2 linked regions of the Homo sapiens genome follow. The protein of the gene in region 1 interacts with the protein of each later gene in a pairwise test. Each region holds a gene or a part of one and is shown on either strand. Other genes may lie near its edges.

Region 1 (8,260 bases):
CTAAGGGCAATCAGAAGAGGATACACTCTGCCCAACACTGGCTAAGACTTTCTGCTGCTTCAAAGCTAATGTGCTAGAAACAGCAAAAACCATAACCGATTCTTCTTTTCAGTATTATTTAAGATTTCTTAAACCCTGGAAATCTGTCTGTTGCCCCCAAAAATAATTCACTGCTATTTGGCTTTGAAGCAATACTCACTCATAAACATGACTTAAGGATTTTGGGTTATTTGGGGAAGGAGAGAAATTGCAAAATCACCTATAATCATATTGCCTCTTCCCTTAAAACCTCTTGCATGGAGTTTCTAATGACTTGTATCTCTTTTGCCACACCTTTAAACCAGATTTCATTAACTCACAACGAGAACACCAGCTCAATTATTAATGACCTAAATTAATCTCCCTATGAAGTATATTCATGATTTATATATTTTATTTATGGTGCTCAAGTTTTTCCTATATAACAAAACATAATGGAAAAATTGAAATATATGTACAATGTCACATATATCTTTATGAATGCATAGGCAGTCTCTGGGGTACAAGCTGCAACAGTACCCCACTCATGAGGCTCAGGTTGACTCAGGAGCCACCGTGACAATACCGAAGCATCCGCTCAGAAGCAGTGAAAGACAAGCAACAAAAATTTGTTACTTGGCCATTAGAGGAAGCAAAATTTTCTTTTTTTTTGAAAAAAAGCTGCCTTGAATTCCTAATCACCATATATAAATTTCACAGCTCTTTGAAACTTCTATAAAATCAACTTCTGTCCCTCCTGGATTTCAAAATACTACTTATCTTTGTCTTCTTTTATAATACCCAATAGGTCACCAACATTTATTAAATGAATGGTTAAAAATATGCTGAATTCTAGATAACCAGCTTACAGATGACCCTTTGAGAAGCAACCTACACCGGACAGCACATTTCATAACTAATGGATAATGCGGTTTAAACGGTGTCCTTACTTCTAACAAGAACCACGATGAAAATAGAGGAACCACAGTCGTCAGTGTCCTTAATTCCTTACTATATACAATAAAGTATGAGTTTACAGAAGTGAATGTATATACTTCAAATGCTCCTTTGGTCCAAATAGTTCTGGACTCTCTTGACAGGATACAAGACAAAACAAAACTCCCATTGTCATGTGCTTGCTACCATACCATCTACTTGCAAAATAACTTTCGTAGTGCTTAGGCAATCAATTATTCTTTCTTCAGTTTTAGAAAGAAGAAATCAACAATATTTTGCTCTCTTCATCAACACATCTGAAACTACTAGAGTTCCCAACTTTGGCCAATAGTTTGTAAGCACTGATAAGGATATGTAACATTCTCGTGTAATTTCTAAATAAGTTTCATTACTTCTAACCTCAAGATTATCATTTTTGTCCTTTTTCCTAAGATAAAAAGACAAAAATGTAAAATAGGTTATAAGGACCCCTAAAAACATAAGGGAAATGAAACCTAAGACTTAAATGTGACTGTGGAATACACAATCTATTTTAGCATACTGCGGTAAGCCACTGGTATAAAACATATCGACTTGATTGAACCCTCTAGAGGTGACTTTTGGGGAAAAAATGAAAAATCTAAGATGAAAATATTCTGAAGTTTCATATTATAAAGGATATAAAACACACCAGTCTGACTTGAAAGTTGACAGAAGTAAAATTTATTAAATAGGTGCAAATTCTAATAGTGCAATTAAGTATGGCTCACTAGATTAGAAACCTTTAAGATAATTCACTATTCTAACTAAAAGCACCCCAGAAAACTGATGTTAAAGTAATTTTACATTCCTTATGTATAATGGTTAGAGGAACTGCAAACTAAAGGAAGTTGCATTCTTCTGTTTTTAAAATTTAGACTATTCAACCTCCCTTTACATTTGGCTAACATGTAAAAAAAAAATCTGACAGTTATTTTAGATTTAGTTAAGAAAAAAATTCTACAAAACTATCAATGAGGCTATTCTAAAATCACTATTTAAAATTTTGAAAACACTATGATTGAACCAAGAGAACACAAGAGGAGGTTTTAGGACCAAGTAAAGGACCATACTTGAGGTATTATCACGTATACTTGACAATATTCAAGAATCATACTTGATAGTGTTCGGATTTTGCAATACTTTAAACTTGCATCTAAAAGACAACTTGTTGATGGATCTTGGCTCGATTTCAAGAACCTATCTAAATATCATAAACAGCATTTTAAGCTGATTGGAAAAAAACAGACAAAACTTAAGTAAAATGGAATTCTCTAAAATACTTTCTCGGAATATCGGAGGAGGGCTAAAAACAAAGGAAAAAAAAAGAATCAAAACAAAAACATGAGAGTACTATGTTTTACCACTGTATTCCAAACCACTATGCTGCTCAAGTAAAATTTACTTTACCTCTTCCCTTCACTACTGCGTGCTTCATATCAACTGAATGTGGCAGCTACCCACACAAGTGTTCAATGGGCATGTGAACGCAACGCTGTGCCATTTCCCTCTCCACATGTTCTCTAGGGTTAAAACTACAGTTCCTTTAAATCCTCGTGTTTCATTTTCCTTTTCACAGAAATCCTGTAATGACCCTAAAGCAGATAAGAGCAGAGCGGCCTCTACACCCAGGGATAAGGAGCACGAGCAATCACTAGGTGCCAAGGAGTTTGAAACGGAGCCCGGCGGAGTGGGACAGGGGAATCCACTACGGCTACCGGGGCCAGGCGAGTGTCCTCCGCGCCGGAGCCGCAGAGGACCGCGGCTGCTCCGGCGCCCGCGCCAGGACTTCTCCCACCTCGCGCCCCGGGAGACTTACCTGCCCAGCCAGGGGCGAGCGCGCCGGGCTGGCCCGGGGGAAAGCCCCGCTCACTCTCCACTGCGGGTCCCCGGGGCCGTTACCTAACTGGTCCCAGCTCCAGGCCAAGAGGCCGCGCTTCAGGGAAGGGCATGCGCTCGCCGGCGACGCCCAAGCCCCGAGCCCCGAGCCCCGAGCACCGGCGCCCGGGAGTCCGCTGGGGCCCGCCTCAGCCCCCCGCCGCGCCGCCGCCGCCGCGCGCCCCCAGGCCCCGCCTCCACCGCCCAGCCCTCCATCCTCCTCAAGCCACCTCCTGCCCACTGCGGCGCCTCCTCACCTGCCCCAGCCGCCGCCGCCCGCGCCTCCCCCGGGCCTCCCCGCGCCGCGACCCTAGCCCCAGCCCCAGCCCCAACCCCAGCCCCAGCCGCCCCCGCCCCCCTGCCGCGCGCTCGTCCCCAGCGCGCCCCGCTCCTCCTCATCTGCCCGGGCCCCGAGCTTTACCTTGTAGGAGTCGGTGGCCAGGAGGATGTTGAACTCGGCTTCTGCCGCAGGATTCATCTCGGGCCGGAGGACAGGGGCCGCGCGCCGCGAGCTCCCTGGCGCGGCTGCGAGGAAGGAGAAAAATGAGCTTCACCGCGCTCCGTTGCTTAAGTCACTGCTCGGTCGGCGGAGGAGGGGGAGAGGGGGAAACGGAGAGAGGGGAGGGGTCAGAGGAGGGCGGGCCCGGGAGCCGTGACGCGGCGCGGGTGACGGCTGCGGCGGCTCGCGTGCTCGCAGTCTGGGAGCTCTGGCGGACTCCCCACCTCGGTTCCCCCGCCTTCACCCCGTCACCCTCCGGGGGCCGAGAAAGGGCGGGGCGCGGCAGCGCGCTGCGCAGTGCGCGGAGGCGGGGCGGGGAGGAGGACGTGATGCACGCGCTCTTCCTCCCAGACGCCAGCTCTGGGAAGCTGGAGGCAGCGGGGCAGCCCCGGCGCGTGACCCGGGCGCTTACCTAAGTTCGAGTTCCCGGCACGGGCGCGGGAGGGCGGGGCCTGGAGGGGGCGTTCCCAGCTTTGCCAGTGCCACGAGGAGCCGGTTCGCCCGCCCCGCCTGGGACCTTCCGTCCTACCCAGTCCTGGCCGGTTTTCTGGGTCCTCCTGAAGTCACGCCACCCGGCTAGGGGGCGAGGAGCCTCCTACTGCCCATCTTCCCGTCCACCACGCGCAGTTACTCACCTTTGTCTCCGGCCTGGATTAAGGATCCAGCCTTTCGCCTCCATCCCTCTTGTCCCTCCTGATCCTCCTGACCCTGTCTTTAAGATCCCAGGAGCTGCGGTGAGGAGTGAGGCTGAGGGGCCCCTTTCATCTGATGCAGCGACTCCGCTTTCCTCCGGCGGCTCTGTCTATGGCTGAGCTCTTTGATCCTTTGAGAGATGGTTTGACTTTTCCCGAGCAAAGAGCCTGCGTTGAAAAGCGGGGGTGGAATTCAGTCCTCACAGATAATGAGGGGACAAGACCTAATTGAACCGAGTATTGCCGGGAAGGAAAAGGCAACGGGCCAAGCCTTTGACAGGGTGCGACACTGACTTTTATCATCGTTATAGTCTTTAAATCCTGGGAAACGAGTTGGCAACCCCAAAATAAAGAAGTGTAATGACGTCTGATGACTTCACCCAAATACAGACCATTCCAAGAAAGACTTGCGCAGTTCTCATGCGTGGTTGCGTTTTTGCATAAAACTAAGATTCCCTTTGTCCGCATGTTTAATAGCTTAAAAATAAATTGAGGTTTTTATCGGATAAAAGTAGCCAGGAAAAAGTGATACAGTGAAAACGATTACAGGATATTTATAGACTTGTCTTTCAAGTTATTAGAAGTCTCATTCTATCTGGGGGCAGTGATGGTGGTGGTGGTAGTGGAACTTGTGAATTGAGATTCATAGTGGAACTTGTGAATTGAGATTCATCTCGAAACTGGAGGCATGGCTGAGACTTCTAATAAAGACAACCTCAGTCAACACTATGTCTTGAAGTCAGTATATATTTTTGACAATCACCTCATCTACACGTAGATACAATACAGGGCAAAGATCATGGAAGTGGAAGGTATCACCAGGCACTCACCAATGTAGTAAATACTAGTACACTTACAATTATTTTCAGCAACGAGGTTTGAAACAAGAGGGCTTATGTATTTATTGGTTGATCTTCCCTGTGTTTTACCGGGGAAAATTATTTGTAAACGCATTTAAACAAATTATTATTTCTATTTTGAGACGGAGTCTCGCTCTGTCGCCCAGGCTGGAGTGCAGTGGCTGGATCTCGGCTCACTGCAAGCTCCGCCTCCCTGGTTCACGCCATCCTCCTGCCTCAGTCTCCCAAGCAGCTGGGACTACAGGCGCCCGCCACCACGCCCGGCTAATTTTTTGTATTTTTAGTAGAGATGGGGTTTCACCGTCTTAGCCAGGATGGTCTCGATCTCCTGACCTCGTGATCCTCCCGCCTCGGCCTCCCAAAGTGCTGGGATTACAGACGTGAGCCACCGCGCCCGGCCTAAACAAATTATTTTTTAATATTTGATTTTGGGAGTTTTTTTATATTATTTCAAGGAGTGCAATTCAAAGAAGGAAAAAGATAATTTTTGTCCTTAATTTGGTGTTTTTTCCTTCATTTAAAATTTATATAACCTACTTTACTTATAGTACAAATTCTTATTTGTTTAGCTTCCTGGAATTCATGTATCTATAAATGACCGTTGTTCTATGCTGCTTTATGCAGAAAAGAAAGTAGGATTCTGATTATAATGTGGGCTTTGTTTATGGTAGTATTTTTTTAAGATGCAAAATTTGATCTTGCAATCTTTGAGTTGAATTTGCAGTTTTAAAATAAAAAGGTCTTATATCTGTGCAAAGAAAAAATATTGTATTGACATTGCTTGTTAAATTAAGGAGTGAGGCCTGCACAAGTATTAGTAATGTGAATCCTCACAGTAGTCTCCAGAGAAAAAAAATGACAATGAAGTCATGTTACCAATAGGACAATCACCATTTGCCTGAGATAGAAATAGGCACATTCTCTATGTAACTACATGCTTAAGCTGGAGCAATTCAGAATTAATTGGGGTTTAGAACTATGAAATTATCACTGAAAACAGAGCCAAGATTTCATTTTAAAATGGCCTCCCCTGAAAGACAGTTTAACAGCTAGCATTAAGGTTGGACGTGGTGGCTCACACCTGTAATCCCAGCACTTTGGGAGGCTGAGGCGGGCTGATCACTTGAGCCCAGGATTTTGAGACCAGCCTGGGCAACATGGTGAAAACCCATCTCTACAAAAAATACAAAAATTAGCTGGACGTGGTGGCATGTGCCTGTAGTCCCAGCTTCTCTGAAAGGAGACTGACGTGGGAGGATTGCCTGAGCCCGGGGAGGTTGTAGCATGTAGAGGACCTGAGAAACTGTTTTTCATAGGTCACAACAACATGACAAATAATAACACATAGACTCAAATGGGCCCCCTCACTTGATTCAAAGCCCTGGATTATTATACCATCCTACCAAATAGCAATCAGGCACTGCCAATTGGGCATGCAGCTCCTTGTCTCCCTCCCTCAGAGTGCTATGAAAGACCTAGGGCTCATATATTTGTTCAGGCAAAGTGAGTGTATCTGTGCCACTCCTGTTGCCACACACCCTTGCAGACAGCCTCGGGTGCACCTTTATATTTCAAAGTTGCCTCAGATACTCCAATCTGACCTGATTTGACCTCAGTAAAAAACACTGGTGAAGTAGGTATGGAACTCACCTACCTGCAACCCCTGACGATGGTCTTATCCATCTCCCTTTATAATCTCCTCTAGACTCGCCAATTAGCAACAGTTGTCACAAAGACAAATGTGAAAAAGAGAGCTTTTAAAAATTAAACTTGGACTTTTTTTCTTATTCAAACTTCCAAGGCCCTTTGGGAACCTCCCAGAGTTTTAATTTCCTAGGGAAAGGCCTCATCCACAGAAAGACACGGTCTTCACAGATTCAATGATTTATCAGTGTTACACTCTGTAATGACTCAGTCGGCTAAGCCTGTACAATCACACAAAGAGAGGCACAGGAAACTATGGAGTCCTCGTCTAAATGTACAAAAATGATAGAGCAACTGTCATCCACACACAGTAAGAATGAGTGCACATATATAGACTATCCACAGACATTCCATTGCAAAATGTAATTATGCCCTTTCTATGGTGTCTTTGTGGTCTGACTGTGCTGCACTCTCCTAACCGGCAATGCTGAGTCGATCATCTATCTGACTTGAAACTGTCTTCAAATTTCACACAGGACGTCTATCGCAATCTATGTTTGCTGCATGGCAAGTCTCGATTTTCCCGTCTCTATTAGTTGTGTTTTTGTTTTCCATTATATTCAAGCATACATTTTTCTAATTCCAACCAAATTCAATGGGAAATAAAGATAAACAAAAATAAAAGGTTTAAATTCACCTTTAAAAGTAAGGTAAACATGCACATTATGATGCCACATGTGGGGATTCCAATGTCATCATTACTTACAAATTTTGCTAATGGCCCAAATTTAAGAGTTGCTAGCCCATATCAATGACTGAGAGAATAAGACCGTTTGAAGTATATAGGAATGTCAAGAGCTTTGAAATCAGTGTTTTCCTAAGTGAGGTCTGCTTATCATTGATGTACATGAAATAACTATCAATGGTACTAAGATACATGTTTTTGTCTTTAATAATTATGTACTTATCTTAAATGAGTTTTGTTTTGTTTGTTTTTTGAGATGGAGTCTCGCTCTATCACCCAGGCTGGAGTGCTGTGGTCCGATCTCAGCTCACTGCAACCTCTACTTCTCAGGTTCAAGTGATTCTCGTGCCTCAGTCTCTTGAGTAGCTGGGACTACAGGCATGTACCACTATGCTTGGCTAACTTTTATATTTTTAGTAGAGAAGGGGTTTCACCATGCTGGCCAGGCTGGTCTTGAACTCTTGACCTCAAGTGATCTGCCCACCTTGGCCTCCCAAAATGCTAGGATTACAGGCATAAGCCACTGCCTTTGGCCTCTAATGAGTATTTAAAAATGTAACTAGCACATAAAACCTGATTTTTTGTGGGAGGGGTATTATTACTTAGGATGAAGCTGAAGGAGGTGGGCACTCAGACTGGTGAACTTTCTATTTCTTTTTCTTACCTTTCCCTAACCTATATGCTGTTTTCACATCCTCCATATAAGACTGGTTTTCTTGAGGAAGCTGAACATGAAAGGCTATATGTCTGATTCCATTTATTTGAAATTCTGGAAAGGGCAAAGTTATAATGAAAGAGAGCAGATCAGTGGTTGTCAGAGACTGGGATTATGAGAAGCAGAATGACTGCAAGCAGGTCTGAGGAAACTTCTTGGGGTGATGAGAATGATATATGTGGTTATACGACTGTATACATTTGTCAAAATTCACTGAATTCTAAGCTTAAAGTT
Region 2 (6,002 bases), on another chromosome or scaffold:
TAACCTCTCTGGGCTTGTTAATCATCTGTAAAACAGGGCTCACAGGGCTGTGTGAGGATTACCCTTGACATTCTTACACTCCTTCCGGGAGTCCCAGAGTGAGTGAGACCAAACCGGGACAATCACAGCTCTCCACCAACCTCAGGCAGGGGCAGGTTGCTAACTGCCTTCCAGGCCTCAAACTTCGCCATCACAGAAAGATGGCACCACCTCCTCAGGCAGGAGGCCCCTAAGGCCGGGGTCAGAGCAAAAACACCCCTTCCTTCTGGGTTTCTTTTGTTAAGAACAGAAGGAGGGGGATTCTAGGGGAAGGCCGTGTAGCCCCTGCCCAGATCTGTTTGCGGATACCTCTGTGACCTCTGCTAAAGGGTGCAGCAGGGCAGGTGGCGGGTCACAGTTCTGAGAAGGTAACATACAAAGAGATCTTCCCTTAAAGATGTAGGAAGATAAGGAGGGGGGGAGTTGCTGGGGAAAGCCCCTTCTCCCATAGCCCCTGTGGGCCCTCATAGAAATGCAGGTTGGATTGTGGTGCAGCCAGGCAGCCTGTCCCCTCGAGGACAGGACCCTGGGGAGGGCCCCCGGGGCAGGCAGGGTGTCTGCACATACGCACACACTCTCTCATACACAACACATGCCTGTATGTGTGCACAGGCCTAGCTATGGAGTAGGAAACGAACTCAGACGCCATTCTCATTTGGACAAGCTTAAAACACGATGTGGCTCGTTTTTATTTTATCTCAGAAAAAAACATTCCCTTTAGAAGGAAAGGCAGTTAGACAAGGCCTCTCACTGGGTAGCTCTGCGCTACTCAGCACATGCCAGTGGCCTGCCAGCCCCAACCTCTCCCCTGGGACCTGGGCCCATGCTCTGGCACTGCTCTGTTACAACTCCCTGTCCTTGATCCCAGCTTTGTCACTCCAAGAGATGGCCCTGGGACTGAGAAGTGGATGGCAGCTGTGACAGCAGGAGAGGACTGCCTGAGGCTCCCCGGGCAGAGGCTCTGGTGCCAGGTTAGCAGCAGGACCGACGGCAGACCCAGCAGCCAGAGAGTGAAAGGTAATAAAATAAAAAGGGTTTCCTCACACTTACATTTTTCCTGGAAAAAAGTCAAATGTCACCTCTGGGCCCAGCAGCTCCTGAACCCTAGGAGAGTCTAGGGAGAGTGGTGTGTGGGTGGCAGGAGGCTGTTGGAGCCACTCCCCAGTCTCAGGGCCAGGCCAGTCTGCTGTGCCCAAGCTGCTCTGTGGAGACAAGGTGGTGCTTCCAGATGCTTCTGCAGTGGAGGGCTGGGCCCTGCCCAGCAAAGATGCTGCTGGTGCTGTGGCCCCCACCTGGTGCAAGGCCTCACAGCATGAAACATCTGCTTCCTCAGAACCCAAGCCCTTCTTGCTGGGCCTCATGCTGCTCCAGCCTGGGGCTCCCTTCTCTCAGTCCAAAGTAGGAACCGGCTGCCCTCAGGGTCTCCTGGCACTCTCTCTCTTCTCCCAACGTGACTGGTCAAGCCAACCAGAAAGATAAAGATCTCCTTCCCTTAGGAAGGGGCAAACTCCATGAATCATCAGGACACTCCTGCTCCATCCTGGGCCAGGGGGTCATCTAGGCCAGGGGGCTCTGGGCACACTCCCTTGAGCTCATGGCTAAGGAGCTCCACGTCTGGGAGGCCCGTGTTCCCCTGGGACTCTTGGGCACTCCCTCCACTCACCAGCCCCAGGGCATAGCCATTGGGCCTCCGCTCAGGGTGGGGAGCACTGCCGTTGGCCCACACTCCTGGCGGGTGGCCGTTGAGACGGAGGCTGACCTGCTCTCCGTCACTGCCATGAGCTGCCAAGACCCGGGCACTGGTGCCAGCTGCCTTGAAAGGTTCTTGCTGCCTCAGGACGTGGCTGCGAATGATCTTGCGGAAGGTCTGGCGGAACTCGCGGATACGGTAGGCGTAGATGAAGGGATTCACAACCGAATTGGTGTGGGAGAGGACGATGGCCAGGTACATGAGCCAGAGAGGGGCGTGGCTGCAGTCGGGGCAGAAGAAAGTGAAGCAGTTGATGATGTGTAGGGGCAGCCAGCAGAGGGCAAAGAGCCCCACAATGATGGCCAGTGACTTGGCAGCATGGACCTCCTTCTGCAGTGTGGACCGTGCCCGCTCCCCCGGCAGAGGCTGGCTCTCCATCTGCTTCAGCTGTCGTCGCGCCGCCAGGAAGATCCGCAAATAGACACCCAGCATGAGCAGCAGGGGCACCAGCACACAGGCAAAGAAGTTGAAGTACACCATGTAGTTCATGGGGACCACATCCTCAAAGAGACAGGCCACTTGGCCCTCCCCGCAGCCCTGGGAGTGGTTCTTGCCCTCCTTTGGCTGACCGCAGTTGTTCCAACCTAGCATGGGAGTCAGGCCGATGGCAAACGACAGCACCCAGCAGATGGCAATGATGCCCTTAGCCCTCGTGCCGGTCACCAAGCCATTGTACCTGGGGAGAAGAGACCAGCATCAGAGATCTGAGAAGCCAGGGTTAAGCAGGGCCAAGAGTTCAGAACCCCAGAGCAGCACCCGTTTCCACATTTCCTGACTGTAAGGTCTTGGACCAGTCATTTCCTGCCACCTCGCCCCAGCATCCTCTTCCGTTAAGTGGAAGTAATATGCCTTGCCTTTTTCACAGGCTTCTGGGAGGTAACAGGAGAGCAGGCATCCAAGAAATGGAAACCCATGTACAAATGCCCAGATGGTCATTGAGTAGTTTTCGGAGTAGTCCTGGGACTTAGTTTGGTTGGAGGAAATTAACGCATGATTTTTTGAGGGGGAAAACATGATTTTTCTCTAAAGGGAAACGTGTCGTAGCCTTAACCAAGATCAATTACCTCCATGTTGGTCGCAGCCTTAACCAAGATCAGTCACCTCCATGTTGGTTGATCTTGGTTAAGGCTACAACAGGCTTGAAGGGGTCTGGAGGGTGGCTTTACTGGCTAGGGGCAGCACCAGCCAGATCAGACCTATAGAGGATCTAGGCCTCTTGTACTCCATACCCTGTCTTCTCTTCCCCATTTGCCATTTGACTTGGGGACTCCAGAAGCCCTTGAGGAGAGGCAGCATGGAGGGTAAAAGAGGGGAGGAGGTCCCAGGCCAAAGGAGATGCCATTTCTCCCCTCCAAACCCACCCACAGCCCTCTGGAGAGAAATGAGAGAATTACTTGTTAACATTTACATGGCCATCTTAACATTTGCAAGGAAATACTGAGGTCCAGGGGGACAGTAATCTGCCCGAAATCACTCAGTCTTCCTGAGTGAGAGCCAGACAGAAATCCAAGCCTACCGACTCCCAGTCTCATACTCGGGAAATGGCTGGATCTGCCAGCCAGTAAGCAGACCTCAGCCCTGTAGGAAAGGTGGCCTAGATTTCATGAAAGAATGGACAATAAAAAAAAAAAGTCTCCCTAATTTAGGAAGGCAACCTTGATGATCACTGAGGGATGACTTCTGTTTAACAGTTTTGATTCTGGCAAGACCAGACTACACTCCCCTCTACCTGGCAGAAACCCTACCCATCCTTCAAGTCCAGGATAGAGATCTCAAAGAAGTTTCCTACCGAAGTGCAGCAGATCCCCACCACATCTGGGCCCCTCGGGGGCAGGGCTTTCCTACATCCATCTCTGCATTGCCAGCTCCGAGACAGGGACACTCAGAAGGTGCAAGGAGGCCGGGCGCAGTGGCTCACACCTGTAATCCCAGCACTTTGGGAGGCCGAGGCAGGCGGATCACGAGGTCAGGAGATGGAGAAACCTTGTCTCTACTAAAAATAAAAAAAACTAGCCGGCCGTGGTGGCGGGGGCCTGTAATCCCAGCTACTTGGGAGACAGGCAGGAGAATGGTGTGAACCCAGGAGGCAGAGCTTGCAGTGAGCCAAGATCGCGCCACTGCACTCCAGCCTGGGAGACAGAGCAAGACTCAGTCTCCAAAAAAAAAAAAAAAAAAAAAAAAAAAAAGGTGCAAGGGGAAGGATGTGCTCTACTTAACTGCGGAGCTGGGAACATCCACAGAAACCATCTCATTCACGGGTAGCAAACAGGCGCCTATAGGTAGCACACACAGGAGGCAGCTGGTGGGGCGTTTACCTGGTCTTCAGCGCCATGCAAAACGTACGCCTGCTATTACCAGATCTCAGGTGGGGCTGGGGAGATGATTTTCTGGGTAAAATCTCCCAAGATTTAAGTTTTGTCAACTAATTCAAATAAAAGAGAAAAAGAGAAACCCTGGTGGCTTCCGATCTCTTATGTGGTCCAATCCTCTTGTTTTACAGGTGGGTAAATTGAGGCCCAAGGAGAGGAATGGACTTGCTGTGGACATTCCAAGAGCCCAGAGGCAACTCAGGCCAAGGCGAGTCTGTCTGTTCTGAATCTCTTAGGTCAGTTCTGAATCCAAACAGTAACCGGACAAGCCCATTCTCAGGAGCTCCTCAGCTCCATTCCGTGGGGGCTTGGTTACCTGTAACAGGGCCTCAACAGGAGGGTCATAGACTTGCCCATTGCTTCCAAGCAACAGGGAGTTGGCATTGCCCTGCCTCCTGTGGGACTCGCAAACATAAAATCTCAGGCTCTCTCATTCTCACATCTACATTACATAGCACTGACTCTGTGCCGGACACTGTTCTTAGTGCTTTGCAAATAGTAATTTATATAGTCCTCATTGACTGGGAAGCTATATTAATTTTGACATTATTCCTGAGAAAAGCATATCCCTTCCTGGGTTCTGGCCCTGTTAACAGGAATGTTTTAAAACTTTGTCTCTCTGAGCCTCAGTTTCTTCATTTGTAAAATGGGACCAAGTCGTGGACCTGTCAGCACTCTGCCCTCTAAGGGCAGAATGGAGAATCAGTGGGTGGAAATTATAGGGAGGCAGATTGTAACTCAGGGTAGGTTAAGAGTTTTTCAGCTGAGCTGTTCACAGGAGAGATGGCCTGCCTCAGGCAATAGTGAGTTTCCTGTCATTTGAGGCAACAGAGCAGAGCCAAGCAGCCACAGGGGTGTTGCAGAGCTGCCTGGGCCCTGGGCCACCTGCTTTGCTGGTTTTCAAACTGTTCTCAGCAGCAAACCTTGTCGCCCACATTCCCAGGCAGTCACAGAGGTGAAGCTGCTGGGGAAGGGAAGGGGCTTATTAAATGTTTATTGAATCAGTGAATTGGTGGGGACACCAGAGCCAACCCGAAGGCTTCTGGGAACACAGTATGGAAATCCCTGGTCTGTCCAATTGTTGACTTGTACAGAAAAGGGAACCCACAAGGGGAGTCTTCCACCGTACTCTGCAAAGAAAGTCCCGTGTGGGGACAGAAACAAAACATACATTAATAGCACTTGCTTATATATGCAAAGAATATCTCTGGAAGGATTCTTAACATGGCCTTGCAGGCAGGGAACTGAGGGTGGGGGACAGGGGGTATGGAGGACAACTTTCTACTATACTATACTCTTTTGTTCCTTTTTAATGTTTTAGAGTGGGCAAAACATGACTTTTTTTTTTCTTAAATTGCAAATAGACTAAGTTTATTCAAAAGAAATCTCCATAGGCTGAGAGCCCTGGACCCTGGTGCCCACGGGGTGGGGACAGCATCAGGGCCCAAATGGAATCACAGCTGAGCCTCAGCCAGGCCCAGCAGCATATCCTGGGCTGCATCTGTGACCAACACACTCACATCTTGCCGTCTTAGACCCCAAACATTGACCATCCAGCTGGAAGGGATGCCAAGGCTGTCTAGCGTGACACACCACCACTCTGGGGTGCCCAGGCATGTCAGAGAATGTGGGTCCCAGAGCTGCTGCCCACCCTTTGTGGAGGTGCCCTCTGCAGCTCTGTGTCCCCCGGCTTGCAGGCTGCCCCTTTCTGGGGATCTCCATTACCCACACTGGGGGCTCACCCTATGGTCCAAGAATATGCCCCATGATTCCAGCTGGGGCTTTATGTGCACATGTCCCAACCTGAGGAGTAGGTGGAGCCTTCCTAAGTTGTCCAAAGGAGT

Evidence for each region. The genes of interacting proteins can lie anywhere in the genome.
Region 2: the proteins of NAMPT (region 1) and ADORA2A interact in a two-hybrid assay, tested with the Homo sapiens proteins (one study listed by BioGRID and IntAct).

What each region holds. Positions count from the first base shown.
Region 1 is NC_000007.14:106,281,536-106,289,795, forward strand, and holds the start of NAMPT (nicotinamide phosphoribosyltransferase precursor), read right to left. Parts: upstream 3,449-8,260; 5' UTR 3,350-3,448; coding exon 3,293-3,349; intron 1-3,292.
Region 2 is NC_000022.11:24,437,046-24,443,047, reverse strand, and holds the end of ADORA2A (adenosine receptor A2a), read right to left. Parts: intron 4,772-6,002; exon of another isoform or gene 4,290-4,771; intron 3,755-4,289; exon of another isoform or gene 3,481-3,754; intron 2,466-3,480; coding exon 1,559-2,465; 3' UTR 691-1,558; downstream 1-690. UniProt on the Homo sapiens protein: Receptor for adenosine. The activity of this receptor is mediated by G proteins which activate adenylyl cyclase.